Linked DNA regions of Homo sapiens. The protein of the gene in region 3 interacts with the protein of the main gene of each other region in a pairwise test. Each region holds a gene or a part of one and is shown on either strand. Other genes may lie near its edges.

Region 1 (7,027 bases), on a different chromosome or scaffold from region 3:
TAGCCAGACATGGTCGTGTGCATCTGTAGTACTAGCTATTTAGGAGACTGTGGAAGAAGGATCACCTGAGCCCAGCAATTCACTTACAGTCAGCTATAATCATGCTGCTGCACTCCAGCCTGGGCAACAGAGTGAAACTCTGTATCAAAAAGAAAAAGAAGCTAGGCACGGTGGCTCAACCTGTAATCCCAGCACTTTGGGAGGCTGAGGCGGGCGGATCACCTGACGTTGAGAGTTCGAGACCAGCCTGATCAACATGGAGAAACACCATCTCTACTAAAAATACAAAATCAGCCGGGCATGGCGGCTCATGCCTGTATTCCCAGCTCCTCAGGAGGCTGAGGCAGAATTGCTTGAACCTGGGAGGAGTAGGTTGCAGTGAGCCAAGATCGCACTACTGCTCTCCAGCCTGAGCAACAAGAGTGAAACTCCGTCTCAAAAAAAAAAAAAGAATTTACTAATGTAGATAAAATAACACAACTACTGAGTACTAAAAAAATGCAAATTGAGATCAGAAAGAAATGCCATTTTACAACCACTAAACTGCAAAAATTAAACAGTCTGATAATACAAAGTGTTGGTGAGCGTGCAGACACTGCTATGGGACTTTACCAAATAGAAACAAGAAGACAACATTACAAAATTGTCTTGCGAGGATAAATACGGGTATCTCCTATAAACCAGCAATCCCTCTCCTAGGAATATACCCAAAATAAATCCTTATCCACGTGACAAGGAAGTTATGCAAAAATATTCATATTGTCTGCAGTAGCAAAACTAGAATCAATCTAAATGTCTATGAATAAAGCAAAGATCGTTTGAGAATTATTCAAGCAGCAATGAAAACTATATGCAACAACCTGGGCAAACAGAAACATGATACTGAACCAAAAAAATCTAATTTTAAAGACTCTACACTATGAAACCATTCAAAACTAAGCAAAAATAAACACTGTTCAAGGACTCATAAAAATGTAATTAAAATTTTTAAAAGCAACAAAATGAGATAACACATATTATCATTTAGGACACTGACAGGACGCTGGACACAACATATAAACAGTACTGGCTGTATTCTAGCTCTGAGCTTGAGTGGCAGGATAACAAGCAACTACCTTATTATTTTGCTTCATAACTTACGTATGTTACATTTTTCTTGTTAGTTCAATATTGGGTTCTTCGCAGTAGGAATAAATCAACATTAAATAAAACTTACATCTAATTCAAAAAACAGGTCTCTTTCTTTACTTGCAATCTCATAATCTGCTCGGAGGGCCAAGTCGTGGATTTTGGTACATTCTCCTAAATCCATGCGCTGTGGGAAAGAAACAGAAAATGCAGACCTCAGTGCCTACCTACTGTAGAAAGCACACAACGCGACTTGGTGTTTCAACTGTCACCAACAGAAATGATCACTTTTGGAACACTGACACTGCAATAAGAAAATTAAGAAAGGAGATATGGCTGAGAAGCCTCATTTCACTTTTACCATCGTGACTACGTGATACTTGAAACTGATGCATTTAATAGTGTAAAGTTTCTATTTTAGACCCAGAGATAATTGGACTGTAATCATCACAACTACATTAATTGGCTTTTGCCAGTTTTTAAGGAGTCTCACCTGTCACCCAGGCTGGAGTACAGTGGCGCGACCTCAGCTTACTGTAACCTCTGCCTCCGGGGTTCAGGCAATTCTCCTGCCTCATTCTCCCAAGTAGCTGGGATTACAGGCACGTGATACCACACCCAGCTAATTTTTTTTTTTTTTTTTTTTTTTTTTTTTTGTATTTTCAGTAGGGACAGGGTTTCGCCACGTTGGCCAGGCTGGTCTTGAACCTCTGACCTCAAGTGATACACCCACCTTGGCCTCCCAAAGAGCTGGCATTACAGGTGTGAGCCACGGTGCCTGGCCCAGTTTTATTTATGCATCAGTCCAAGGATTCAGTAAATGGCAGCATGTGGGGTGGCAGGGATAGGAAACGGCCAGGGCTGGGCGTGGTGGCTCACGCCTGTAATCCCAGCACTTTGGGAGGGTGAGGCAGGCGGATCACTTGAGGTCAGGAGTTCAAGGCCAGCCTGCCCAACATGATAAAACCCAGTCTCCACTAAAACTACAAAAATTAGCCAGGTGTGGTGGCAGGGCACCTGTAATCCCAGCTACCTGGGGAGCTGAGACACAAGAATCGCTTGAACCCAGGAGGTGGAGTTTGCAGTGAGCCAAGACTGTGCCACTGCACTCCAGCCTGGGTGATAAAGTGAGACTCTGTCTCAGAAAAGGGGAAAAAAAAAAGGAAAGGGCCAGAAAACAGTCTCACTGCAACAAATTTCTAGGCATTGTCTTGCAATCTTGACTACTTGAGATGCTCGATGCTTAAGATGCAGAGACAGAGGAAGAGGAAAGAGCGGACAGAAGTTAGATTTTGGCAATTACATCACAACCTAACACTTGGCTTTGTGTAGCTGATTGTGTATCAAAGGGAATAAAGGAGAACAGGCTGGTTCGTAGCCAAATACATGCTCTACACATTTTCTTAGCCTGGGAAATGACCCTGGACATCTAAGTGAGGACAGATAATTGTCCCACTCAGTTCCTCCATTTGACAAGCAAAACGTTCCATTACTAAAACAAAATGATTTATGTTGTCAGTAAGAACAGCATGATGTGCTATTATGTGTACCATATGCAGTACAATTAGAAAACAGTGTATGATTTTAATCTAAATCCTAAGTATAGGACTCTATGCAGACACCTTCTGCCTCTCGCCATCTACACAGCAACAGGGAGGTTTGTGTGCTGAGGATCATCGTGTCAAGTTATAGAGTGCATGTTAACAAAACCCAACATCCCAACTAGGAGACACCCCCAGTAGGACAAAAGAACATGTCTACATAACCAGAAAAAAAAAAAAAAAAAGACGTTAGTACCAGTTGCAGTGGCACATGTCTGTAATCCCAACACCTTTGGGAGGGCAAGATGGGAGGATCACTTGAGCCCAGGAGTTTGAGACCAGCCTGGGCAACATAGCAAGACCCTGTCTCTATGAAAAAATTAACAATTAGCTGGGTGTGGTGGTATGTGCCTGTAGTCCCAGCCACTTGGGAGGCTGAGGGGAAGAGATCGCTTGAGCCTAGGAGGTCAAGGCTTCAAGTGAGCTGTGACTGAGCCACTGCACTCCAGTCTGAGCAACAGAGACCCCTGTCTTTTTAATTTTTTTTTTTTTTTGAGATGGAGTTTCGCTCTTGTTGCCCAGACTGTAGTGCAATCTCGGCTCACCGCAACCTCCGCCTCCCAGGTTCAAGCGATTCTCCTGCCTCAGCCTCCCAAGGAGCTGGAATTACAGACATGTGCCACCACGCCCAGCTAATTTTGTATTTTCAGTAGAGATGGGGTTTCTCCATGTTGGTCAGGCTGGTCTCGAACTGCTGACCTCAGGTGATCCACCCACCTTGGCCTCTCAAAGTGCTGGGATTACGAGCGTGAGCCACCTCGCCCAGCTTTTTAAAGAGACCCCGTCTTTTAAAAAAAAAAAAAAAAAAAGAAAGGAAGGCTTTAAACCTTTAATCCATCTTGAGGGGGAAAAAAATAGAGAGGCTTGCATGTCTGACTCTTGGGATGCAGTCTCATAGAAAGCATGTAGCATGCTAGGCTGGGCACGGTGGCTCACTCCTGTAATCCCAGCACTTTGGGAGGCCGAGGCGGGCGGATCACGAGGTCAGGAGATCAAGACCATCCTGGCCAACACAGTGAAACCCCTTCTCTACTAAAAATACAAAAAAAATTAGCTGGGCGCCTGTAGTCCCAGCTACTCAGGAGGCTGAGGAAGGAGAATGGCATGAACCAGAGAGGCAGAGCTTGCAGTGAGTCAAGATCGCACCACTGCACTCCAGCCTGAGCGACAGAGCGAGACTCCGTCTCAAAAAAATAAAATAAAATAAAATAATAGATAAAAAAAGAAAGCACGTGGCATACTCACTAACAAAACATCCTTCAGTATCACCAATAATAAAGCTAACATGGAGGCGGCAGACAACGGGTCTGCCTTGTATGGTGATGTTTATTTTGACGAAAGATTGACTTTTCTCCTTTATCATTCTTACTCTGAAGTCAGATGGGACTCACGTTATGGTCGGTTACATAGAAGACTTAGAGATAGGACAATAGTGGTTCTAGAAGCCAAATTTGCACTTAAAATCACTGTCACTGAAAATCTGACAACTTTTACCTCATTCACTCTGTTTTTTCTTTTTTTTTTTTGAGGCGGAGTCTCACTCTGTCGCCCAGGCTGGAGTGCAGTGGCACGATCTCAGCTCACTGCAACCTCTGCCTCCCAGATTCAAGTAATCCTCCTGCCTCAGCCTCCCGAATAGCTGGGACTACAGGGGCACGCCACCACGCCCGGCTAATATTTTTGTATTTTTAGTAGAGACAGGTTTTCATCATGTTGGCCAGGCTGGTCTCAAACTCCTGACCTCAAGTGATCCACCCGCCTCCTCCTCCTCCTCCCGAAGTGCTGGGATTACAGGTATGAGCCACCGCACCTGGCCTCATTCACTCTTCTAAGTTGTGGGTGTTGTCCTTTAAAATATATAGTTTCCACAAACTAAGCATTGTAGCTGAAAAATGAATGGCAGCTATCAGAAAAAATGCTTTAAACTAATCAAGGCTTTGTTGTTCAAAGAAAAAGCTACTACCAAAGGAAGCAGACCCTAAAACCTGAAGTACAACAAAGTATGAAGTACAAATTGATTTCCATTATAAAAAACTCAACTGTCAAGAAAGATATGACATTAGAAAACCTCATGAGGCCGAGCGCGGTGGCTCATGCCTATAATCCCAGCACTTTGGGAGGCCGAGGAGGGCGGATCACCTTAGGTCAGAAGTTCGTGACCAGCCTGGCCAACGTGGTGAAACCCCGTCTCTACTAAAAATACAAAAATTAGCCGGGTGTGGTAGCGCACGTTTGTAATCCCAGCTACTCGGGAGGCTGAGGCAGGAGAATTGCTTGAGCCCGGGAGGCGGAGCTTGCAGTGAGCTGAGATGGAGCCATTACATTCCAGCCTGGGCAACAAGAGCGAAACTCAGTCTCAAAATAAAAAAAAAAGAAAACCTCATGAGGCCAGGCGCGGTGGCTCATGCCTGTAATCCCAGCACTTTGGGAGGCAGAGGTGGGTGGATCACCTGAAGTCAGGAGTTTGAGACCAGCCTGGCCAACATGATGAAACCCCATCTCTACTAAAAATACAAAAAAAATTAGCCAGGTGTGGTGGCGGGCGCCTATAATCCCAGCTACTCAGGAGGCTGAGGCAGGAGAGTTGCTTGAACCCAGGAGACAGAGGTTGCAGTGAGCAGAGATAGCACCATGCACTCCAGCCTAGGCAACAGAGTGAGACTCCGTCTGAAAAAAAAAAACCTCACATGAAGCAAAATTCAGCACTTACTTTTCAATGTGAGAGCTCCCAAAAGAGTCCCTGCTTAAGCACACTGAGGATAGGCTTGGGTTCTATGATTACCCTCTTTGGATGTAGCTTTTCAGCTTTGCCAAGGAGGCAGGGAAAAATACTACTGGCCATTCCCCTGGATGCCCAACATCAAGCAGAGCTGAAATATCACATTCATTAAGTCCTTCCACAATATTCCACATGGCTGCTAAATCCAGTGTGTCAGGCGTTTTTTACTCCACAACCTGTGTTCTCTTCTGTACCTTCTACTGGTCTAACACTACTGACCAGGAAGGGCACCAAAGTTTCCGGAACCTTCAGAAAACACAGTTCTGGCCGGGCGCAGTGTCTCATGCCTGTAATCTCAGCACTTTGGGAGGCCAAGGTGGGTGGATCACGAGGTCAGGAGCTCCAGACTAGCCTGGTCAACATGGTGAAACCCCGTCTCTACTGAAAATACAAAAGTTAGCCGGGCGAGGTGGTGCATGCCTGTAATCCCAGCTACTCGGGAGGCTGAGGCAAGAGAATGGCTTGAACCTGGGAGGCAGAGGTTGCGGTGAGCCACGATCACATCACTGCACTCCAGCCTGGGCAACAAGAGCGAAACTCCGTCTCTTTTTTTTTTTTTTTTTGAGACAGAGTTTTGCTCTTGTTGCCCAGGCTGGAGTGCAATGGCTCGATCTCGGCTCACCACAACCTCTGCCTCGCGGGTTCAAGTGACTCTCCTGCCTCAGTCTCCTGAGTAGCTGGGATTACAGGCATGCGCCACCACACCCAGCTAATTTTGTATTTTAATAGAGACAGGGTTTATCTATGTTGATCAGGCTGGTCGCCAACTCCCAACCTCAGGTGATCCACCCGCCTCGGCCTCCCAAAGTACTGGGATTACAGGCGTGAGCCACCGCACCCAGCCTGAAATTCTGTCTCAAAAAAAAAAAGAAAAGAAAAGAAAAGAAAAGAAATACTCTCACTCAGATTATTTTTCTCACCAGTATTCTGCAGCTATGCTACACAGGGTCTGGCCAAGGAAAACATGGTTGAAATCTTCCCGAGAGTGCACATCTATCTGCTCCCTCTGACTTCCTTCACTATGGGTTTATCAAGAATTCCAAGTTGTGCATCCTATGAAAATACCCTACAGTGAAACTTCCTTTGACGAGTTGAAATCATTAATCTGTATTGACCTCGGTACACACAACAATCTGCATCAAACAGTAACGTTTTCCCATCCCAGGCCAAACAGCAGACAACACCCCAAGGAACAGAGGCACAAGGTTTGGCATTCATTTCGCATTTGCTGTCAGAAAACTCAGCTTGAGAAGTTTTAATACATCTGAGCGGTTTTCCAGAAGGTGCTCCTCCCTAATATAAGCAATGATTCATCATGAAGAAAACTTCCTTTAACATATGCACATTTCATCCTTAAAATGAGAGGATAGTTTTTAACCTCCGTGAGGTAGCTGTGAAACCTTAAAATGGGGGTGGTCTCTACAGGACTCCTTTTCTCTCAGTGGCGTAATCACCACAGATAACCTTCCACTATTCAGTCTTTTCAAATTCTTACTTCGAATAAATGCACATTATACAA
Region 2 (7,027 bases), on a different chromosome or scaffold from region 3:
AGATCATGCCACTGCCCTCCACCTGGGCGACAGACTCCATCTCCAAAACATTTATTAATTTATATACTGTTTTTTCAAAAGTGATGAGGTGGTTTAGAAACACCAAATAAAAACATGGGTAAAATCTTGGCCCATCAATTACTACCTTTCTAATCTTGGGCAAGTTTACTAGCCTCTCTGAGCCCATTTAAATGAGTCTGTATATAAAAGCACAAAGTCTCTATTGCATACAAAGTGCTCAGTATTTATTCCTATTATTTCAGGAAAATACCTTTAATATTACCTACCAGTTTTGTATAATGGTTACAGAAATTCTTAAACTGTAGCTATCATCTTGTCTAGCTTACTGATGAATACACAAAATGCCAATGAAGTGACTTACCATGTATCACTAACCGGTTTAATTAAAGACAATGACAAAACTAGAACCCAGGTTTCCTTAAAAGTACTTTTTCCTCTCTACCACAATGCAGATTTAAAACAAATCCTCAGGCTTTAGTTTTGTCATTGTAAATAAAACTTCTGTGAATGCAGGGAAAGATACTACATGCTGGTATGAATATGAATGCAGTATAACTATAGTTTATTATATCCTTTAAGAGTAAAGTGCCTGTGTTGTTCTTTTCAGGCCAATATAGATTAAATGTAAAACTGTACTATGTGATCTGGTACACAGTACAACTGTTGATACTATAAAAAAATCAAACATTCAAATATTCCTAATGTTTATAAAGGCCAAATTCCAAAGGCCAAAACTCCAGGTGTAACTCAAGAAAAAATTCAAAAAAATTATTTCATAAACTGTTTTCTTGAGCGGCTCTATTTCTATGTTATAGTTGGTTACCACTGGGAGAACTGGACAGTTAACTTAAAATACAGAACTAATACAAGAGGGTTAAAAGTCCATTTATGAAGTAAAGTAGAAAGCATGTACAAAGTCGTTCACTTACAGAAGACTAAAACAACAAATAGAAAACCTAAATAAACGATTCTGTGATCAGAGTAGACTCAAAATGTTATCAGGTGTATAAATACTTAACCAAATTATTAACATAACTCTGTGTATCTTATGTTAGAAATAGAAGTAAGCTTTTAATGCAACAGGCCTAGGTCAATCATTTCTGCTAAAGTGTGCCTCAAAAAAAGCAAATGGGGTTCCTAAAATTCCTGAACAAAAAGCATGCTTTTATGTCCATTATTGCATAATAAAACAAACCTGCAATTGGATAAGAAAAAGATACAAAAGATAACCGTCAATCTTTACCAATTTATTTTATACAAAACAGTAGCAATGTAGAATATGGGAATCGTCTTCCGCTGCCACGCACGCAAGTTGTGAACATTCCAAGCCAATGTATACAATTTGGAGGGGAAGGCTAAACAATAGCATCAACCACGCTACTGAACATAGGAATTTTTCATTTAAAAAGATTAAAAATTAGATAGCAATGTCTTCTTAATATTGCTCTCGTCATTGAAGACTGAGGAAAAATAAAAAGTGACTTTATAAGTTTTTTAAAAAAAGAGGCAATGGGGAAAAAAACAAGAGGCTGCTACAACACTGCCATACAGTCAAACCATCATACTTCAATATTTGCATACTCGATAGCAGCATTATTTTTACTGAACCGTGTGCAACTACATGTAGAAACACATCAAAGCAAAATATCATGGCAGTTATCAATCAAGATCCAAAAAGGAAAAAAACAAACAAAAAAATAACTCTAGGATGAACACACTATAAGAACATTTATGGAGAAAGAATCAGTATCTACATTCTTGGACTGTTCCATTCTGCCCCAATAAAAGTGTCAATTCAACTGTCAGCTGTGGATTTTTGGCGGATTTGAGTTTTTCCAGTTCTTATGATACTGCATGCTTGGAACAAAGGGGGTCATAATAAATCCTTCTACACAATGAACTTCATAGGCAGACAGCTGAAAATAAATTTACTACTTGTAAACACACACAAAAAAAAAATACAAGATTTTTTGTATCTTTAAACAATCAGTGCTTCCAAAAGCCCATTATCTTCTATATCGACCTCTCTCCCCTCGGTCTCTGTCTCGATCACATAATCGCTCTCTTTCTCTTTCTCTATCACGTCCTCTATCTCGCTCTCTGTCTCGTCTGTTATCTCTAGGGCGGTCTCGCTCTCGTTCCCGGTCTCTTTCACGGGGTCTACTTCTCCGGCCACTGACAACAGCTTGTGTGCGACGAAGGAAATCATCCACCCTCATATCATAATCATGCTAGAAAAGGAAAGAAATGTGTTAGGTATGTCAAAAAGGCAAATAGTGTTAAGTGGATCCCTGATTTGAAAAAAAAATTTATATAAACAATTTTAAAATATAAAAAAAGAAAAGTCTCTGTATTATAATCGGCGGAGAGAACAATCCAAAGAAATGCAATAATAAATTAATTCACAGAAGGTAATATGCTGACATGGTTTAGAAAAAGGATGATGCCTCATTAGACATCTACAACAGATTATTCAAATCTCTTTATGCAGTTTTCCACTTAACTTTAATGACTTTTCCATCTGATCCCTTCAGTAAGATTTAGGCCAAAGATATTAACTAGTGATGACCTTCAACTATTATCCATATATACTGCCAATTATGCTAAATGTCATCAATGTTTTTCTGGCACAGGCTAGCTCTACATTTTTCCTCCAATTCTACCAACTTCAATTTTACAAACTGAGTATTATGTTCCAGATTTTCTTTCAAACTAAATTGTTACAACTAAGTTGATGTGCAAGAAAAGTTGTGGCTGCTCCTAAACTTGGCCCCTGCTCTAGTTTAAACTTTCTACTCTTAGTTCTCAGCTTACCTTACTGATTTTGGTCTTCTCTCAAAACTTAGCTGAAATAAGATTTGAAAACACAGTCCCACATTACCTTTTATATATGTGATTATGTAAGTAGAGAATATGTATACTAACCAAAAAATCACTACATAAAGATCCATAAAATAGAACTTGTTAAAAAGGATATAGTTGAGGAAAACAAAAAAATCTCAGACTTCCTATTTTAAAAGCCATGTGATCAGTTATGGGAATTTTTAAGACACCACAACCCATCTAGTCAACTAAGATTTCATTATAGATAGACTGTATATTTCTTTCTTGTGTGCTTAACTGAAAATAAACTACTAATTTAAAGTTTGTGAATTAGTTAACTAGTACTCTCAAATTATTTTACAGAATGTTAGAAGTCATGATAAGATTTGATTTAGAGAAAATTACTATCTTTATAAGGAAATTACTGACAACACAAAAAAATGTCTCAAAGATAGGCTAGAAAGCTGCTCTGATTCTCACAAATAGGCCCACTCTTCATCTTAAGTGGGAAAATAAAAAGATGTTTATTTGGCCCCATACAGACTCATCAACCTAAGTAGGGAGTGGAAAAAAATTCTAACTTGCATATCCTACTTAGTTTAACAACAAAACTACCTTTCTAAGGCTATCAAACTTATATGCATATGAATTATGCTTCCAACACTTGCCAGAAGACAATTCTGCTTTATAAATAAAAGTACTATTGGGGGGGGTGGGGAAGCATTTAATAAACTCAGCCCCACTAGTTAAAAACCCAGAAAACTCAAACTAAAACTAGAGTCTTTTTTTCACTGGTCCTGTTTTGAAGCCATCAAAAAAAGCTTTCACATCAATCTTATCAAATAATTAACAGAATCAATGAATAAAGGACATGTCTGCTACATATCATAACATCTGGTTATTCTTTGCTAACATCACAATAACCAGAGGTAAAACAATTTATCAGTTACTAGCTTTAACATTTGGTAGAAATAAAAACAAATGACTAAATGAGATTACAGCTTATCAGCTAACTTAATATACACGATCTATCCTAGAAAAATTGAGTAAGAATACACAAAAAGTTCAGAAATATCTATTAACAATATTAATTACATAGCATAATTAAGATCTCAATATGGAAAGAACATAGCCTAGGTACTACCTAAAAGGAGTTCTATTTGTAGGCGTTTGCCTTAAGCAGTTTGTGATTTGATCAGTAAAAGAAATATATTCTATCTATATAATCCAAAGGGGCATAATCAGGCATTTTTAATAAAAACAAACAATTATTCCAAAACAGTCTGCAGTAAGAATATGCAATGGTCCGTCAATCATCATACTCTGGTCTCCCCATATTTAAGTTACCTACAGAATTCTAAGTAGTTCCCTCACACCTTTGCCTCCTTGTGCACTTACTACTCGTTTATCTCTGTATCTTGCTTCATGTGGTACTGGATGATGTCCTGAGTAAGGGGGATGAGCTTGAGGAGGTGGAGCATGGTGCTGATAGTAAGGATGGTGTGGAGGTTGTTCCATTCCTGGGTAAGGGGGCTAAAAAAGGAAAACCATTTACATTAAGAATCTACCAACACCCTTGTAAACAAGCGATTCTTAGAACCCTTCATCCAAAACACCAATCCCAAACAAGTGAATCTGTACTAGACATTTACTTTGATGGCATTAAGGTGTTTCAAAATATGCTTTTTGTCGAAAATTACACATCTTCTAAGATTTAACATGTTTATGCTTTTCTACTCCTATCATATAAATAACAATGGAAATAGCAAACACTTACATGGTGCTTACTGTGAGCCAGGCATTGTTCTAAGCACTTTACTAGTCTCATTTAATTCTCACAGCAACCTTATGAGATAGATACTATTGTTCCCAGTTTACAAAAGGGAAAACTGAAGCAACAAGGAGTTAAGTAACCTGCTTATAGTCACACTACTGTTAAAGTGGTGAAGCAGGCATACGGCATCAGGCATCCTAGTTCTGCAGTTGGTAAACTGGTTAACCACTTTGTATGTATCTGTTCTTAGAAACATCAACAGGCCTGGTGTGGTGGCTCACGCCCATATCCCAGTGCTTTGGGAGGCTGAGGGAAAAGAATCCCTTAAGCCAGGAGTTGGAGACCAGCTTGGGTAACAGAGTGAGACCTTGTCTCTATAAAAAAATTAGCCAGGCACAGTGGCATGTGCCTGTAGTCCCACCTACTCAGGAAGCTGAGGCAGCAGGACCACTTGTGCCCAGGAGTTCAAGGCTGCACAGAGCTATCATCACACCACTGCATTCCAGCCTGGGAGACCGAATGAGACCCTGTCTCTCAAAAAAAAAGTCCAGGAGCAAATTAACTTTTAAATGCCATTTAAAAAATGAATAAAGGGTAAATTAAAGATTACTTTCATAGTTACTATCAAGATCATATATTATTAAATTTTTAAAATTTCCTAGAATCTAAAGGGGAAAAGTCTCATAATCATCTGCATATAATAGTATAAAACTGTATACCTTAAAAGTGAAACAAAAGTCAGATGAAGAGGCCATATAACATATTGCATTTAAAAAAAGACATAAATTAAAATGTAAGAAAACAGTAGAAGCTACTTCAACTTCCAGGTTTTTATTTCTTGAAAATTAATGCTTCAGCTATCTTCAATATCTTAAAATATACTCTAAGACAATTCAGTTTTCTTAAAGGAAATAATTAAAAAGCAGGAATAATCAGGGTTTAATTAATCTTATTTTACACAGAAAATTTAGTGAGTATTAGATCAGGCACTATGCTAAACTTAACATGTACTTTGTAAATTTATCTTGACAATGAAAATGACACTACTACATTAAATTTTAAGCTATACCAGGACAGTCATGATGTCAATTTCATTCACCATGATATAATCAGAACAAGCACAGTGCCTTGCACAGAGTAAGTACTAAATATTATATTTGATAAGACAAAGCATCAGTGAATGCCCATGGAATTTTACAGATGAGGAAAACTAAGAGTTGTATTAAGAAATTAACCCAAAGTCACAGAGTTGGGAAGAAAAAGAAATATATCTGAACCCAAGCGGACTTTGCACTACTAATTACTACCATAATACACTATTACAGTTCTCAAGCCTGTACTATTAACACAAATGAGCTTTTAGTCTTTAGTTTGAAAGACAGCATACAATTATTTATCATCAAAAATCTGTATTTTAAGTCTTTTTGAGATGGAGTCTCCCTCTGTTGCCCAGGCTGGAGTGCAGTGGCGCAATCTCGGCTCACTGTAACCTCTGCCTCCTGGGTTGAAGCAATTCTCCTGCCTCAGCCTCCCCGAGTAGCTGGGAGTACAGGCACACGCCACCACACCCAGCTAATGTTTTTTGTATTTTTAGTAGAGACAAGGTTTCAGTTTCACCGTGTTGGCCAGGCTGGTCTCGAACTCTTCACCTCAGGTGATCTAGCCGCCTCAGCCTCCCAAAGTGCTGGGACTGCAGGTGTGAGCCACGGCGCCTGGCCAGTTTAAGTCTCTTTAATGAGTAACTGTAACAATCATATTCCGAGTAAGCACCTGAAATACTAGAACTGCAAATTAAGTTATGTAACTTATAAAAATAGAATAATACAAACCATTCCTTGCCAAGGTGGTGGTGGTCCCATGTTATGAAATTCCCTCACATAATCATTGTAGGACTAAAATAAAAGATGATAATGTCAATATAATTAAAAATTATCACAGAACTGCAAAATAAATCAGAGCCTGATTTTATCCACATTAAATAGATAAAATGAAATGCTTACCCCATTTAAAAACACATCTCGGCGAACTCCTGAAAATCGTCTGTTGGGAATAAGATTTGTGAAACTAAATTCAGGTAATTCATAAACTAGTTCCAAGAATGTAATTCAAAACTAGGCAAGAGTGAACCCGACTTACCTGTCCACTTCCTGGTATCGTGGATCCTTTAAATACCCTGTTCAAACATCAAGCATTTTAGTAAATCAAATTTATATTTTTCTTTTATGGCATTATAATTAAACCTTCCTTACCACTCGTTTCAATTCTTTCCATGAAATATGTACTTTAAGTGATGCTACTACTGTATTATCCCATTTTCAAATTTTCTTCTCAGATTACATGATAATCTAGGAAATAACTAATGATATCATAGAATTGTAAACTGCTAGAGAAGCTTTCAGATAGGTATCT
Region 3 (7,027 bases):
CAAGGGGATTAACAAGAAAATTTCCAGCCGTGGATTTTCCTACAGACAACAGGCATCATCAATAAGACTGTTCAATGAACAGAGAAATACTCAATGAGTAATAAAGCTCTCCAAGGTAAGAGTAATACAGTCAGCAATACCCAAGTGACAACTTACATTTTCTGAGACAAAAAGAGCACAGCAACGCCTTGAGTTTCCAGAATTAAAAACCTCTGCCCTCACAGCAACAAATGAAGTGCTGTGTACTCAGTACATGATGGATAAAGTTAGCTACAGATTACAATTTAAACGTAACTTAGACACACCTGTTGTAAAGCTATAGTTACAAAAACAATCATACTTTTAGTCTAGAAATCTGTGAATGTGTTGTGCAGGGAAGGAGTGTTGAGGAAGTATAGCTGCATAGGTACCTTTGTTGTCCAGTGGTCCGTTATGTTCTTGCTCTTGTTCATCTTCACAGGGTATCTCTGCCCGAATGCTTTCTTGAAGTTGGCTAATGTGTTGTTCACTGAATGACTGACCTACAGTTGAGGAAGACTGGCACACCATGGTGTCTGACACCTCAGATGTTATAGGTGTACAAGAGTCTGTTTCTTGAGATGTGCTGCTGTCTCCATTTTGGGAGCTTAGGAAACTAGATTCCTGATTCAAATTTTGGACATCACAGTCATTAGCATTATGTAGATCCTCTTTATGTCTCAATGTTTCATTATTACTGTTCTGAGTATAATTAATGACTTCAATCACTCCATTGCAATTAATTTCTGCTGCACCACCCTCTGTATCACGTTCCATAAGCGTTTGATCCTGGCCAATGGTACTTGACTCTTCTAAGGAACAAACGAACAAAAAAAGATATATGCATATGTGTGTGAGTGAAAGAACAGAAACATTTCTCACAAGATTAAAACATTTTCTAGAACTTATACTGAGTGACATAAAAACATGACTAAACATCTAAAACCTATTTCCGGAAGGGCCAAGATCTTACTTTTACCCAATTGTTAAATGAAATCTATGTTCCATTTCCTGAGAAAAGTTACAAATTACATTTAAATATTACCTGCCTAACATTTATGACAAGATCCATATTCTTATAAAGATACCCCCAGAGATGTGTTGTATGTATGAAACCACTGTATTATATAGCAATGATAAATTAACGTTAAAGTGTGTTGTACAGTAATTTTCGTGATGTTCTATTTATACCAAGTTTTTCTTGGGTCATTTTATTAGGTGGGTTCTCTTTCAAGGGTCTTTCAACAGGACTCTCTGATTCTTCTTGCTTGTTTGGTCTTTTTTGCCCAGGGCCCGACTCTTTCTCCATTTCCTCAATTTCCTGCATTCGCTTCTCTAGTAATTCTGCCTGGCGCTTCTGCTTCTTCTTCAATTTCTTCTTCTTATTCTTTGACATTTTGTCAGCCTGGGCGGAGATTACAAACAGATAAAGCCTTCAGGTGGCTAATTAATTACCCCCAGTTGGAGATAGTTGTTAACTTTAATTACTTCCTAATTAAATTTCACAAATCTTTCCCTAACATAGCACTTAAGTCTTTCATTAAATTAAAAGATGCGGGATACTCTTATAAACCCAAATAAAAACAGAATAAATAACAAAGTGTGGTCTTCTGAGCAGTCCGTGGGGTTGGTTTACATTCAGACAAACTCGAATTTTTTAGAGGCCTCACCAGTACAAATGTGATGAAGGTGCATGGGAATTTACTGGAGAAAATTATAGAAGCGCAGGAATTTTTTTTCCTTTTGGTTCTCAAACTTGAAACAAACTGTTACCATCCACAACAGAAGAACCCATGCCCATAGTCCATAGATCAAAATTAAATATAAAAACACCTTATACTTACTGGTTTAGGCTGGGGAGCAGTACTGACTGAAAAGAAAAGAAAACCAAGTAAGAATTCTGGCATTCATCAGGCAATATAAACTAAGGCTCAGATAAAACACTCTACCAGAATGAAAAGTCTTTCTTATGTAGTCTACATTGCAGAGAAAACTATTGTTTTTAAATGACTTAAGTAGAAGCTATATTATTACCATTTTTAAAGAAAATAATGAATAGAAATTGCCAAACTTAAAAAAAAGGGATAAATAAAATTCTTCCTCCCCAGGTAAACTAAAGTTGCTAAAAATCACCTATTTTCCATTCCCATGCACTGCTTAAAATAGAATGGGACAAGCAACAACCTCTTCACCTCAAATGCTACCCAGAATCTGTCAGTTTTAAAAGGGGAGTCTAGGTGACATCAAGAGCTATAGTAATTTGCTCTACAGCATGTCATGGATAACAGTGTAGCTTAGCTGGAAGGTAGGATCTTCAGTCTTCCTCTTTTTAAAATATTAGTATAATAACTGTGGTTAACAAAAAACACATAATAAAAATTTATACTCTAGATAAGTGTACATTCAGTGGTTTTAACACTATTCACACTGTTGTATAACAGGATCTGTAGAATGTTTTCATCTTGTAAAACAGAAACTACATCCATTTAACAACCAACTCCCCATTTCCCCCTTCTTTAGTCTTCCTTTTTAAAGAAGTGTATAACTAATAACTCAACTTGAGGATCAAGCAAGTTCCTAAAAAATGACACACTACTAAAACTAAAATCTGTATCTCAAAAGAAAAAAAATCATAAAGCAGCCTTTATTTATTTATTTAATTTTATGTCTTAGACAGGGTCTCACTTTGTTGCCTATGCTCGAGTGCAGTGGTACTATCACAACTCGTGGCAGCCTTGACTTCCTAGGCTCAAGCAATCATCCTGCCCCAGCCTCCTGAGTAAATGGACTACAGGCACGCATCACTATGCCTGGCTAATTTTTTTAATTTTTGTAGAGACAGGGTCTTACTGTGTTGCCTAGGCTGGTCTCAAACTTCTGGGCCCAAATCATCCACCCACCTCAACCTCCCAAAGTGTTGCGTTACAGGCATGAGCCACTGTGCCTGGTCCCGCAATTTATTTGGTATATAATATTGTGTGGCACACTACTAACTGCTTTACCATTTAATCCCAATAATTCGCAGTTGAGGGAAAATAAAGTAAAATAACTCAGCTAAGGTTTCTCAGTCTAGGATGAAGCCCAAATTCAAACCAAGTCTGTCTACTCCAGTGTTTAAACCTAAACTATTAATAGCAATGTTATCTTGTCCCTCTACAGACTACCAGTCCTATAAATGAGCATGTGTGATCACAGTTAGAGGTAAACACTTCAAAAATCATCAACTCATAAGAAAAAATATTTTTAAACAATACACACCAGCTTTTATAACATACAACACAAAGACACAATATCTAGTTTTCTCCTTCCCCTATGGAAGTAACAGTGAGAATGTCTCTTGGAAGCTGATAATGTTTCTTAAATATGTTATTGTTGAAATGGATTGAGTGGTGTTTAATTCCCTGGTAACAGAATAAAAATAGAAATTTCTTTTTAACTTCTAATGATAGCGAAGTCCCTAAAAGAAAATACACCTGCAGATCCGGAAGGCGGAGGAGCTCCAGATCGCTGCCATTCTGTTGCTTCTGCAGCCAGCCTCCGAATGTACTGCTCATTCACTGACAATAAGATGTTCTCTGGTTTAATGTCAGTGTGGATGATACGGCACTTGGTATGTAAATAATCAAGACCCTGTAACACCTGAATGGAAATAGAGTGGCAGACTTGCAAACACAAAATACAGGCTTTCTGGAGAAGTAAGAGATTATAACATGACATTAAAAAAAAAAAAAAGATATGATAGCGTTTTCTATAGAGAATAAAAGCACCTTTTAAAAAAGCACAAATAAACTTTCTCAGAAAGATTAAACTATGAAAAAGGCAAGAAATTATTTACAATAAAAAATTCTTCAATGTTTTACAAAGCTGATTCTATTTGGAGATATTCTTCAACTATGTACAATGCAAAGACTGAGAATAAACTTCAACACACACACACCCTCTAAGTGTTGTAATGTAGGTGCTGACAGACATTTAGATATCTTTAATTCAAATTTCCTCACTGAGGAAGAATTGAGGTCTCTTGCTGCCCAGTTTGGAGCTCTTTCCAGGACATATAATCCAAACAAATTTTTGCACCTTGAAGTATTAATATTTTCCTGATGGTAAAATCTATACTGTATATTGAAGGCTCTTTAGAAAATTAGAAAATGCCTATGAATCATGCTGTATAAAGAGATGGCAATAATCTGACATAGCAATTATCTATTCATGTAAAATTACTATTTGCAACCAGAACTTCTGGATAAGGGCTCCAATGTTCCCAAGTCAGGAACCTCAGCTTCCCTTTCTAATTATTATAGGAGGCAAACCTGGGGGAAAATGGTTATGCTAAAACATTTAAAAAGAGAATAAGCACAATAAATTCTAAAGGTTGAATGAAATATTTAATTTTAGCAATTAACTTTTTTTTTTTTTTTGAGATGGAGTCTTGCTCTGTCGCCCAGGCTGGAGCGCGGTGGCGCGATCTCAGCTCACTGCAACCTCCGCCTCCCGGGTTCAAGCGATTCTCCTGCCTCAGCCTGCCGAGTAGCTGGGATTATAGGCGCTTACCACCACACCCGGCTAATTTTTGTATTTTTAGTAGAGACGGGGTTTCGCACTGTTGGCCAGGCTGGTCTCGAGCTCCTGACCTCAGGTGATCTGCCCGCCTCGGCCTCCCAAAGTGCTGGGATTACAGGCGTGAGCCACCGCGCCCAGCCAATAACTTACTTTTTAAAACAAAGAATTTTAAAACAAAAATTCTTTTTTTTTTTTGAGACGGAGTCTCGCTCTGTCGCCCAGGCTGGAGTGCAGTGGTGTGATCTCGGCTCACCGCAAGCTCCGCCTCCTGGGTTCACGCCATTCTCCTGCCTCAGCCTCCCGAGTAGCTTGGGACTACAGGTGCCTGCCAAGACACCCGGCTAACTTTTTGTATTTTGAGTAGAGAGGAGGTTTCACCATGTTAGCCAGGATGGTCTTGATCTCCTGACCTCGTGATCTGCCCGCCTCGGCCTCCCAAAGTGCTGGGATTACAGGAATGAGCCACCACACCCGGCCTTAAAACAAAAATTCTATTGGAAAAAATAAAGTCCTGACACTTCAAGAATATTAAAAAATCACTACATAGTCAAGACTAAGATACTTGCTGATTCAAGATACATACTTGCTGAATAATTTTTTTGACACAAGGCAGTGGAAGCCCCTGATAATTGGATTTGATGATCCACTTGAGCAGATGATGCCCCAAAACTTCAAATACCATGCAGATATCTAGGAATTCATTAAGGAGGGAAAAAACGGCACAAAAGAAGAACACGGCAAGACAAGCTGTGAATTCCACCCTATTAAATGTTATGTATTATTTTCTTTCAGTATAAAAAGTTACAGAGCTTGAATGAATAAATATGTAGCTGTTAATATTCTAAAATTTCAAAGTCTAATGCTATAGTCAATGAAAGCATTCATGAAACATTAAATTGTGGGCGGCTGGCTTCATCAATATTATTATGTACATTAAAATACTCAATGGTAAAAGAAAAAGTGAAACCTACATATGCAAATAGTGAAAGAAAGCAGTAGGCTCAAGCCTCAAGCTGTTGATTAGCTTCAGGTAAATTAGTTTCTTCCCTAATATCAAAATTGGTGTCCAGGGTAAAAATTCCCACTCTCACAGCTTCAAAGCAAGGAAAAACAAATTATTCCTTAACTATAGAAGAGATGAATGTACAAGAAAGACTTAAACCTCAAAAACGTAAATGCCAACATTTTTTTTTAAATAGGAAACTTGCTTAATGCTCTGTATTTTACAAAACTAATCTTGATTCCAGTGCCACCATGTGTTGTCCTTATGTATGAACAACCTGATGACACCACACAGCAGGAATACTCTGAGTCTAAAATTGTGCAGGGCACTACAGAGATTTTAGTAGTATCTTGATGTCTTCCACCCCCACTGGCTTCTACATGCAAGTTAAGACATACATATATAGTAATGGTCTAGTGCTCAGACTTTAACATTCTCCATTAAAGGAAAGCCTGAGCTCCTTGGAAAAATGGCCAAATCCAAGGTAGGAAAAATAACAGGGTAAACTTGGAACACCTTGCTGTTCTAACAAATAAAAGAACCTGTCAGGAAGAAACAGGAACCATCTTGAAAAGGATGTCACCAGCCAACATGGAGACTTCTTTTTTTTTTTTTTTTTTGAGACAGAGTCTTGGCTCTGTTGCCCAGGCTGGAGTGCAGTGGCACTATCTCAGCTCACTGCAACCTCTGCCTCTCGGCACTACAGGTGTGTACCACCACGCTGGGCTAATTTTTGTATTTTTAGTACAGATGGGGTTTCACCATATTGGCCAGGCTGGTCTTGAACTCCTGACCTCATAATCTACCTGCCTTGGCCTCCCAAAGTGCTGGGATTACAAGCGTGAGCCACTGCGCCCGGCCAGACCACTATAAAGGATAAAATTATGAGTTAATATATGAATTAAAAACAGAACAAGTCCACACTGATCTGAAAGTAAGTGTGGAGGCAGGAGGAAGAGAAACATCTTCTTTAGAGAAGAAAGCCAAATAATAAATACATAAGGGATTACAGAAATAGAAAATCACCATTTTTACAATCACTATAGTATACTATTACTGATTCAGGTAAGAATCAGTGAATACTAAAACAACTATGTGAAAGACTGTCGGGAAAAAGGATTGTCACAGTGTCAAAATATCATTCCACAGATTGCTTATTAATTACAAAAAGAACAAAGTACCTTTACAACTGGGAAATCTGGAAGGCACTGCCTTAACCAAGTGATCAAACTTACTACCACCAATGATAAGCACAAATTCACACCATGTGCCTTCTAATGCAATATACTAATATGCATTCGAATGCATATTCTAATGCAATAATCCATGTACTATGCTTGACAAACACGGTTAACCTGAATTTAATCATGAGGAAACAATCAAACAAATCCAAACTAAGGTGGCATAAAACAACTAGCCTGGATTCTTAAATTAAAAAAAAAAAAA
Region 4 (7,027 bases), on a different chromosome or scaffold from region 3:
TCCCAGGCCATCGTGCTCCAGGGCACACCCCTAAGCACCATGCTACATGCTGAATGACTATCTGGTCATGAAAACTAAAGGCCCCAACCTGTTTGATCTCCCACTTCTCTGGGTCAGAGATTCGGGTGAGGCGCTTGCGTTCCAGTGAGTCGTCCTCTACTTCAGGAGCACTGACAAGGGACAAGTGAGTGGGTCTATCAGGATTCCGCATTGAGGTCTCCTCATTGGTCTCCCCGACAAGATTTCGCCGTCTATTTGGGTTTAGATCTTCTCCAGTCTCTTGATCCACATCCTAAGGCACAAAAACAAGGGAGCTGTCTCACTTGCTGTCCTCTTCCATTCCCTTGGCCATCACATGTAAGAACAGGCTGACCATCTCACCTACCTTCATGCTCAGGCTGGTCTTGGTCCCAGTGAAGGACAGCACTTTGACTTTGACCCTCTGGCCTTTGCTCACGACATCAGCTACATTGGCCACACGACCCTCCCGCCGGAGCTCAGAGATGTGCACCAGGCCTTCCCACCGCTTCCTGAGGGAGAGCCAGACACATCTGGAACATGCCAAAAAATATTTTTCCCCCAACCAATTTCTACCCTTACTGGAACTAACAAAAGAAAATGGTCTTAAACTCAAGAGAAAAGTACCATGAAGGTGGTCAAACAATAAAATAGTATTAACACTCTCCTCATGGGGAGACATGGGGTGGGGAAGCAAATTCTATCTGTCCCAACAAGCAAAGGACAGATCTCCTGAAGACAGAGAAAGGAATAAATGGCTCTGTAACATTTCAAAAGAGTCAATTTCTAAGAACCATGTATGGCTGATTTGACTAAAGTGTCATTAATCAAAGTAACTTTTTAGAATGTGAACATCCTCAGTGATAAAAGAAATTCTGCCCATCACTGGTGTGAACAAAAGAGCACCAGTCATTACCTTAGTCCTTCCAGCTGCACAAAGCAACCAAACTGCATGATGCTGGTAACTTTGCCATTATAAATGTCACCAATGGTGGGCTCTTCTGGAGGAGGGCGGTCCACATGCTTATCCCGCCATCTATCCAGATTCCGCTCTCCATATTTGTCCCGGTCCTTCCGGTCTTTGGGGGGACTCTGACTCCTGCTCCTGGACCGATATCTAGACTTCACTTTATTCCTCTCCCGGGTCCTGGAACGTGATCGAGAGCGGGATCGGTGTCTCCGCTTGTGGTCTCTATCTCGGTTTCGTTCCCTATCTCTGTCTCGATCTCGGTTTCGATCTCGGCTTCGACTCCGCTTCTTCTTCTTTGTCCTGTCCCTAACAAATCAATAAGCACCTGTTTAAAAAAGAAACCAATCCGATTTCATCTTCGCATCCCCAAGCACCCAGTACAGTGCCATGCACATGGTAGGTACCCACTAGGTTTTGAACTGAATTAGAGTTTCAATAACTACGACATCCCTATAAGCCAATAAAGAATTGAGCCACAAACATATTCAGCCTCTTTCAACCCTGACTTCTATATTCTGAACAACCTAGCATTTGCTACATACACTTAGCAGGAAGCAATGAAAACAGATCCAACAATATGATATATGACCAGTCCAGATTCTGTAAACTTGCCCAAAATTTTGCTTGGCTGGTCCATAATATTCAACTGTCACAGTACCCTAAACTTCCAAAGGACAGGACACTAAGGACAAACCGGTGTTCAGCATCTCTTTGCTTCTCCTGGCCTGCTGCGCTGGGCATTAAAGCTTCCAGTTCTTTCAGGACATCCACAGCAACTTTCACATCATCTTCATCCAACATGGTCTGCAGAGGTAGAGGCCGGCAAAGTTAGGAAAAAAAACTACTCAAGAATCTGTATGTACCTCAGGTACATCTATAAATCACTAATCACTATGTGAGGGAAATAGAAGAGGGGCAGAGATTTCAAACTTGATTCAGGATAGATGCAGAAGAAATGGAAAAAAGGCTCTTGAGAATTACTGCTACATTTGACAAATCCCCTCTGTCCTTAATAGAATTCTATGAAAGGCAGTTAGATATTAATCATCCCTGCCATGAAAGAATGCAAGTGATGATTATATTAATAGAAAACAGGTGTTAAAAATTTTAAAAAGCAACTCTCCCTCTGCACTCTTCCTCCCTACCCCCACTCCAGCTTTATTTTTTTAAATAGCCCTTATTGCTATCTGCTATGTTACATACCTATTTGTTTGTTTATTGCCTATCTCCTCCCCACCAGAATGTTTACATGTTTATTTCCTGCTCCCTACCCCAAAATTAGGATATAATCTCCAAAGGCTGAAACTCTTGTCTGTTCTGTTCACTGCTGTTATCCAGGTACTTAGAACAGTGTTTGGCATACAGTAAGTACTCAATAAATATTTATTAAAATGAAATTTAAAAATCAAAATGCTTTAAAAATTAGACCTTTAACAAGTAACAGAGCAAAAAAAAAAAATCTAATTTCACACCTTAGGCATCTGTTCCAGAACCTTATTTCATATTCCTAATCACTACTTCCCCAAATTCCCAATCTCATTTCCCTTGAATATCATTCTCAGAACCCCTTAACAAATTCAATACATAGTACATGCTCAGGGAGTGATCAAACACTTTCATTCTTAAAAATAAGTTACAACAAAGGCAAACTTAAAATTAATAAAATTACTATGAGACAAAGAAAAGGGGTTGAGAATATATATTTATAGTAGACACTCTTAAAATGGTATCAGTACCCGAACAGAAGGGTTGTCCGGTTGGCAAAGGACTGGGAAGAGTTCCTTCAGCTTTTCTTTTTCTGTTTTAGGTTTAACAACTGGATCTTGTTTCATTAAAGAGCATGAAGGGGTTAAAAAAAGAGATATATATTTAATATTATTAATGATTAACAAAATAACTTCAACAATAGATTTGTATCAAACTGAAACAGAACATGGCATTTTGCTATATATTAATCATACCTGTTACTATAAATGTAATTTAATTTTCTAAATACATTGATCACAAACTATCTCGAAATGTAGCAGAAAGAGGAGTGTAGCAATACTCATTGGGTTATGTCTTATCTTTTTTATTTTGTCTTAAGTCGTTTGAAATTTTTTTTCCCCTTGAAACGGGGAAAAAAACCTCTGTCACTCAGGCTAAAGTACATTGGTGCAACTATGGCTCACTGCAGCTTCACCCTTTTGGACTCAAGCAACACTCCTTCCTTAGCCTCCCAAGTAGCTGGAACTACGGAGGCACGCCATCATGCCTGGCTAATTTTTTTATTTTTTTGTAGAGATGAGGTCTCTCTATGTTGCCCAGGCTGGTCTAAAACTCCTGGGCTCAAGTGATACTCCCACCTTGGCCTCCCAAAGTGCTGGGATTCCAGCAGTGAGCCGCTAGGCCCAGCCCATTTGAAAAATCTTACTGGAACATTTACTTGCTCAGCAACTGCTGAGAGGAAAACAAATGCAATTTACAGGATGTTCAAAACCTACACCATTCTAGAAGCTAAGCTCAGCTGGAAGCTCTGCTTACCTTTGCTAGTGGAAGGCTTCGCTGGAGGCCGCATGGTTTGTATGAGACGCAGCAAGTTACTAATAAGAGAATCCTTTGAAAAGAAACATAGAACGAAAATTGTCAGCTCCCATATCAGTGCTTAAATACACTTAAAAGGCAAAGAATGTCCTGTAGGGAAGGGTGGTTACGCACTTGAATTTAGCTAATTGGAATACATGAAACATAGTGTGTCAACCTGGTGTAGCATGAACCTAGTATAATAGCTTCAGAGAAAGCCGATATTTAGGACTCTTTGGGGAGAAAAGTTATTAGGCTCCCTGCAACCATTTTATTTCCCAAGGTTTAGAACTACCCCCAAAACTTGTTTCCAACTTCCTGACTCACAGAACAAGAATGTAAATACCTACAAAGACTTAATGATGAAAATCCTGCCCTGTTTTCCTAGAGGTATCACAGAAAATCTGGTTAAATCATCACTACTTAATGGCATGAAAACATTACACACTTAATGGCTTATTTAATTGATATGTATAAAATTGTCTCCTTCCTATATCAAAATCCTATATTAAACCCTATCAAAATTTAAAATCAATAGTGACATTAAAACATAAATTATGTAATCCCAGCACTTTGGAAGGCCGAGGCGGGTGGATCACGAGGTCAGGAGATCGAGACCATCCTGGCTAACACGGTGAAACCCCATCTCTACTAAAAATACAAAAAATTAGCCGGGCATGGTGGCAGGCACCTGTAGTCCCAGCTACTTGGGAGACTGAGGCAAGAGAATGGCGTGAACCCGGGAGGCGGAGCTTGCAGTGAGCTGAGGTGGCGCCACTGCACTCCAGCCCAGGCGACAGAGCAAAACTCTGTCTCAAAAAAAAAAACAAACAAACAAACATAAATTAAAACATTAATATCTACAGATTATCTTCTCCACATATACATACCGTAAATTCTGCACCATTTTTGACGAGAGAAGCCTTAAAAGTATCAAAGGTGGTATTTTTCTCAGCAAGACTGATCACAAATTCAGCTGCAAATAAGAAACAGAATTCAGAAAAGAAGAGACATGAACAAGAAATCAGTTTCAAGTATGGTGAAAACAAAACTAATTAGGTTATCCAACAGTAATAAAAAACAAAGACCACCATCTGGTAAGGGTAAAGAGAGAAAATCTGGCCAGGTGTGGTGGCTCATGCCTGTAATCCCAACACTCTGGGAGGCCAAGGCAGGCGGATCACTTGAGGTTAGGAGTTCAAGATGAGCCTGGCTAACACAGTGAAACCCCGTCTCTATTAAAAATACAAAAATTAGCTGGGTGTGGTGGCAGGCACCTGTAATCCCAGCTACTTGGGAGACTGAGGCAGGAGAATCACTTGAACCCGGGAGGCAGAGGTTGCAGTAAGCCGGCATTGCGCCACTGCACTCCAGCCTGGGCAACAGAGTGAGACTCCGTCTCAAAAAAAAACAAAAAAAACAAAACAAGAAAACAAGAGAGAAAATCTAGACTGCTGAAATTATCCACACATATTCTAGAGAATTTATACAAATGAAAGGAAGATATTACTACAAAATGGCTCAATGTAGCCCTTGAGTGCATTTAAACTAGGAAGACCTATTTGACCCACATCATGGTACCCTCTTCTCACAAAACCACTACCTGGGCACGCTGCCACCTAGACTAGACTGTAAAGGTGACAATAAAAAGCATGAGCCCATGTAGACACACAGAGGCACACAACAGAAGGACAGACCCAATCTGTATATGAGGGCCAGGCAGCTGCTGGGTGGTGCAATCTCCACATTGATGAAAGACTTTTTTGCCAAATTTTTCTCCACAAACCTGCCTAGTTCTTCTTTTTTTTTTTTTTAAGACAGAGTCTGGCTCTGTCGCCCAGGCTGGAGTGCAGCGGTGCGATATCGGCTCACTGCAACCTCCACCTCCCGGGTTCACGCCATTCTCCTGCCTCAGCCTCCCGAGTAGCTGGGACTACAGGCGCCCACCACCACGCCTGGCTAATTTTTTGTATTTTTAGCAGAGACAGGGTTTCACCATGTTAGCCAGGATGGTCTTGATCTCCTGACCTTGTGATCCACCCGCCTCAGCTTCCCAAAGTGCTGGGATTACAGGCATAAGCCACTGTGCCCGGCACACCTGCCTAGTTCTTGAAACTTTCTTTTTTTCTTTTTTTTTTCTTTTTTTTGAGACGGAGTCTCGCTCTGTCGCCCAGGCTGGAGTGCAGTGGCGGGATCTTGGCTCACTGCCACCTCTGCCCCCTGAGTTTAAGCGATTCTTCTGCCTCAGCCTCCCAAGTAGCTGGGGCTACAGGCGCATGCCACCATGACCGGCTAATTTTTATATTTTTAGTACAGACAGGATTTCACCATATTGGCCAGGCTGGTCTCGAACCCACGACCTTGTGATTTGCCTGCCTCGGCCTCCCAAAGTTCTGGGATTACAGTCATGAGCCACCGCACCTGGACTTTTTTTATTTTTTCATTTTTTTTTAACAGTCTCACTCTGTCTCTCAGGCTGGAGTACAGTGGTACGATCTTGGCTCATTGCAACCTCCGCCTCTCGGGTTCAAGCAATTCTCTTGTCTCAGCCTCCTAAGTAGCTGGGATTACAGGTGCCCTCCACCACGCCTGGCTAATTTTTGTAGTTTTAGTAGAGACGGGGTTTTGCCACATTGGCCAGGCTGGTCTTGAACTCCTGACCTCAGGTAATCCTACTGCCTCAGCCTCCCGAAGTGCTGGGATTACAGGCATGAGCCACTGTGCCCGGCCTAGTTCTTGAAACTTCTAATATTAGAGCTATTTATTAAGCTACTTTCAGACAGTGGCTCACGCCTGTAATGCCAGCACTTTGGGAGGTTGTGGTGGGCAGATTGCTCGAGCCCAGGAGTTAAAGACCAGCCTGGGCAACATGGCAAAACACCATCTCTACAAAAAATACAAAAATCAGCCGGGGGTGGTGGTATGCATCTGTAGTCCTAGCTACTCGGGAGTAGACTGAGATAATAAGCCTCATACTATGAGACCCACAAAAAAACTGTAATGCTTTCATTTGAATGCTAATCCTAGAAAAGTAAATGAATAAATAACATGAAAGATCTAGATGACTAACTCATAAAGTAGTACTACCATACAATTTCCATCCTGGAATGTGCCTTTATCTTTCTGATAAAGTGAAAGCCAAATGCCATCAGGCTACACGAACACATCTTATGCATAATAAGTTAGTAACGATAATGTCAATGGTTAATACTTTTTGAACATTACTACGTGCCAGGCACTATGCTAAGTGCTTTTTATGGGTTACTTCATGATCCCCAAAACAACCCTCATAAGTAGGTGCTATTATTGTCATGTTTTACAATGAGGAAGCTGACGGTTTGAGACACTGACCTACCCAATAATAACTGGGGGGAGCTAGGAATAAAACCCAGGCAATCTAACTTCAGAGGCTACATTCTTTCAAGAAATGTGGAGGGAGAACTAAGTCCCATGGTGCTAGGCATGTCATGCTCAAAA

The links.
Region 1: the proteins of SRPK1 (region 3) and LUC7L interact in binary tests that used the Homo sapiens proteins (3 or more experiments, as listed by UniProt).
Region 2: the proteins of SRPK1 (region 3) and YTHDC1 interact in binary tests that used the Homo sapiens proteins (3 or more experiments, as listed by UniProt).
Region 4: the proteins of SRPK1 (region 3) and DHX8 interact in binary tests that used the Homo sapiens proteins (3 or more experiments, as listed by UniProt).

The regions. Positions count from the first base shown.
Region 1 is NC_000016.10:219,433-226,459, forward strand, and holds part of LUC7L (putative RNA-binding protein Luc7-like 1), read right to left. Parts: intron 1,316-7,027; coding exon 1,217-1,315; intron 1-1,216. UniProt on the Homo sapiens protein: May bind to RNA via its Arg/Ser-rich domain.
Region 2 is NC_000004.12:68,312,072-68,319,098, forward strand, and holds part of YTHDC1 (YTH domain-containing protein 1), read right to left. Parts: intron 6,792-7,027; coding exon 6,755-6,791; intron 6,683-6,754; coding exon of another isoform or gene 6,659-6,682; coding exon 6,619-6,658; intron 6,511-6,618; coding exon 6,448-6,510; intron 4,378-6,447; coding exon 4,243-4,377; intron 2,253-4,242; coding exon 2,028-2,252; 3' UTR 1-2,027. UniProt on the Homo sapiens protein: Regulator of alternative splicing that specifically recognizes and binds N6-methyladenosine (m6A)-containing RNAs.
Region 3 is NC_000006.12:35,869,072-35,876,098, forward strand, and holds part of SRPK1 (SRSF protein kinase 1), read right to left. Parts: intron 5,269-7,027; coding exon 5,162-5,268; intron 3,658-5,161; coding exon 3,492-3,657; intron 1,889-3,491; coding exon 1,863-1,888; intron 1,424-1,862; coding exon 1,210-1,423; intron 831-1,209; coding exon 411-830; intron 40-410; coding exon 1-39. UniProt on the Homo sapiens protein: Serine/arginine-rich protein-specific kinase which specifically phosphorylates its substrates at serine residues located in regions rich in arginine/serine dipeptides, known as RS domains and is involved in the phosphorylation of SR splicing factors and the regulation of splicing.
Region 4 is NC_000017.11:43,486,948-43,493,974, reverse strand, and holds part of DHX8 (ATP-dependent RNA helicase DHX8), read right to left. Parts: intron 4,527-7,027; coding exon 4,441-4,526; intron 3,585-4,440; coding exon 3,512-3,584; intron 2,811-3,511; coding exon 2,725-2,810; intron 1,793-2,724; coding exon 1,683-1,792; exon of another isoform or gene 1,601-1,682; intron 1,314-1,600; exon of another isoform or gene 1,295-1,313; coding exon 935-1,294; intron 531-934; coding exon 386-530; intron 293-385; coding exon 89-292; intron 1-88.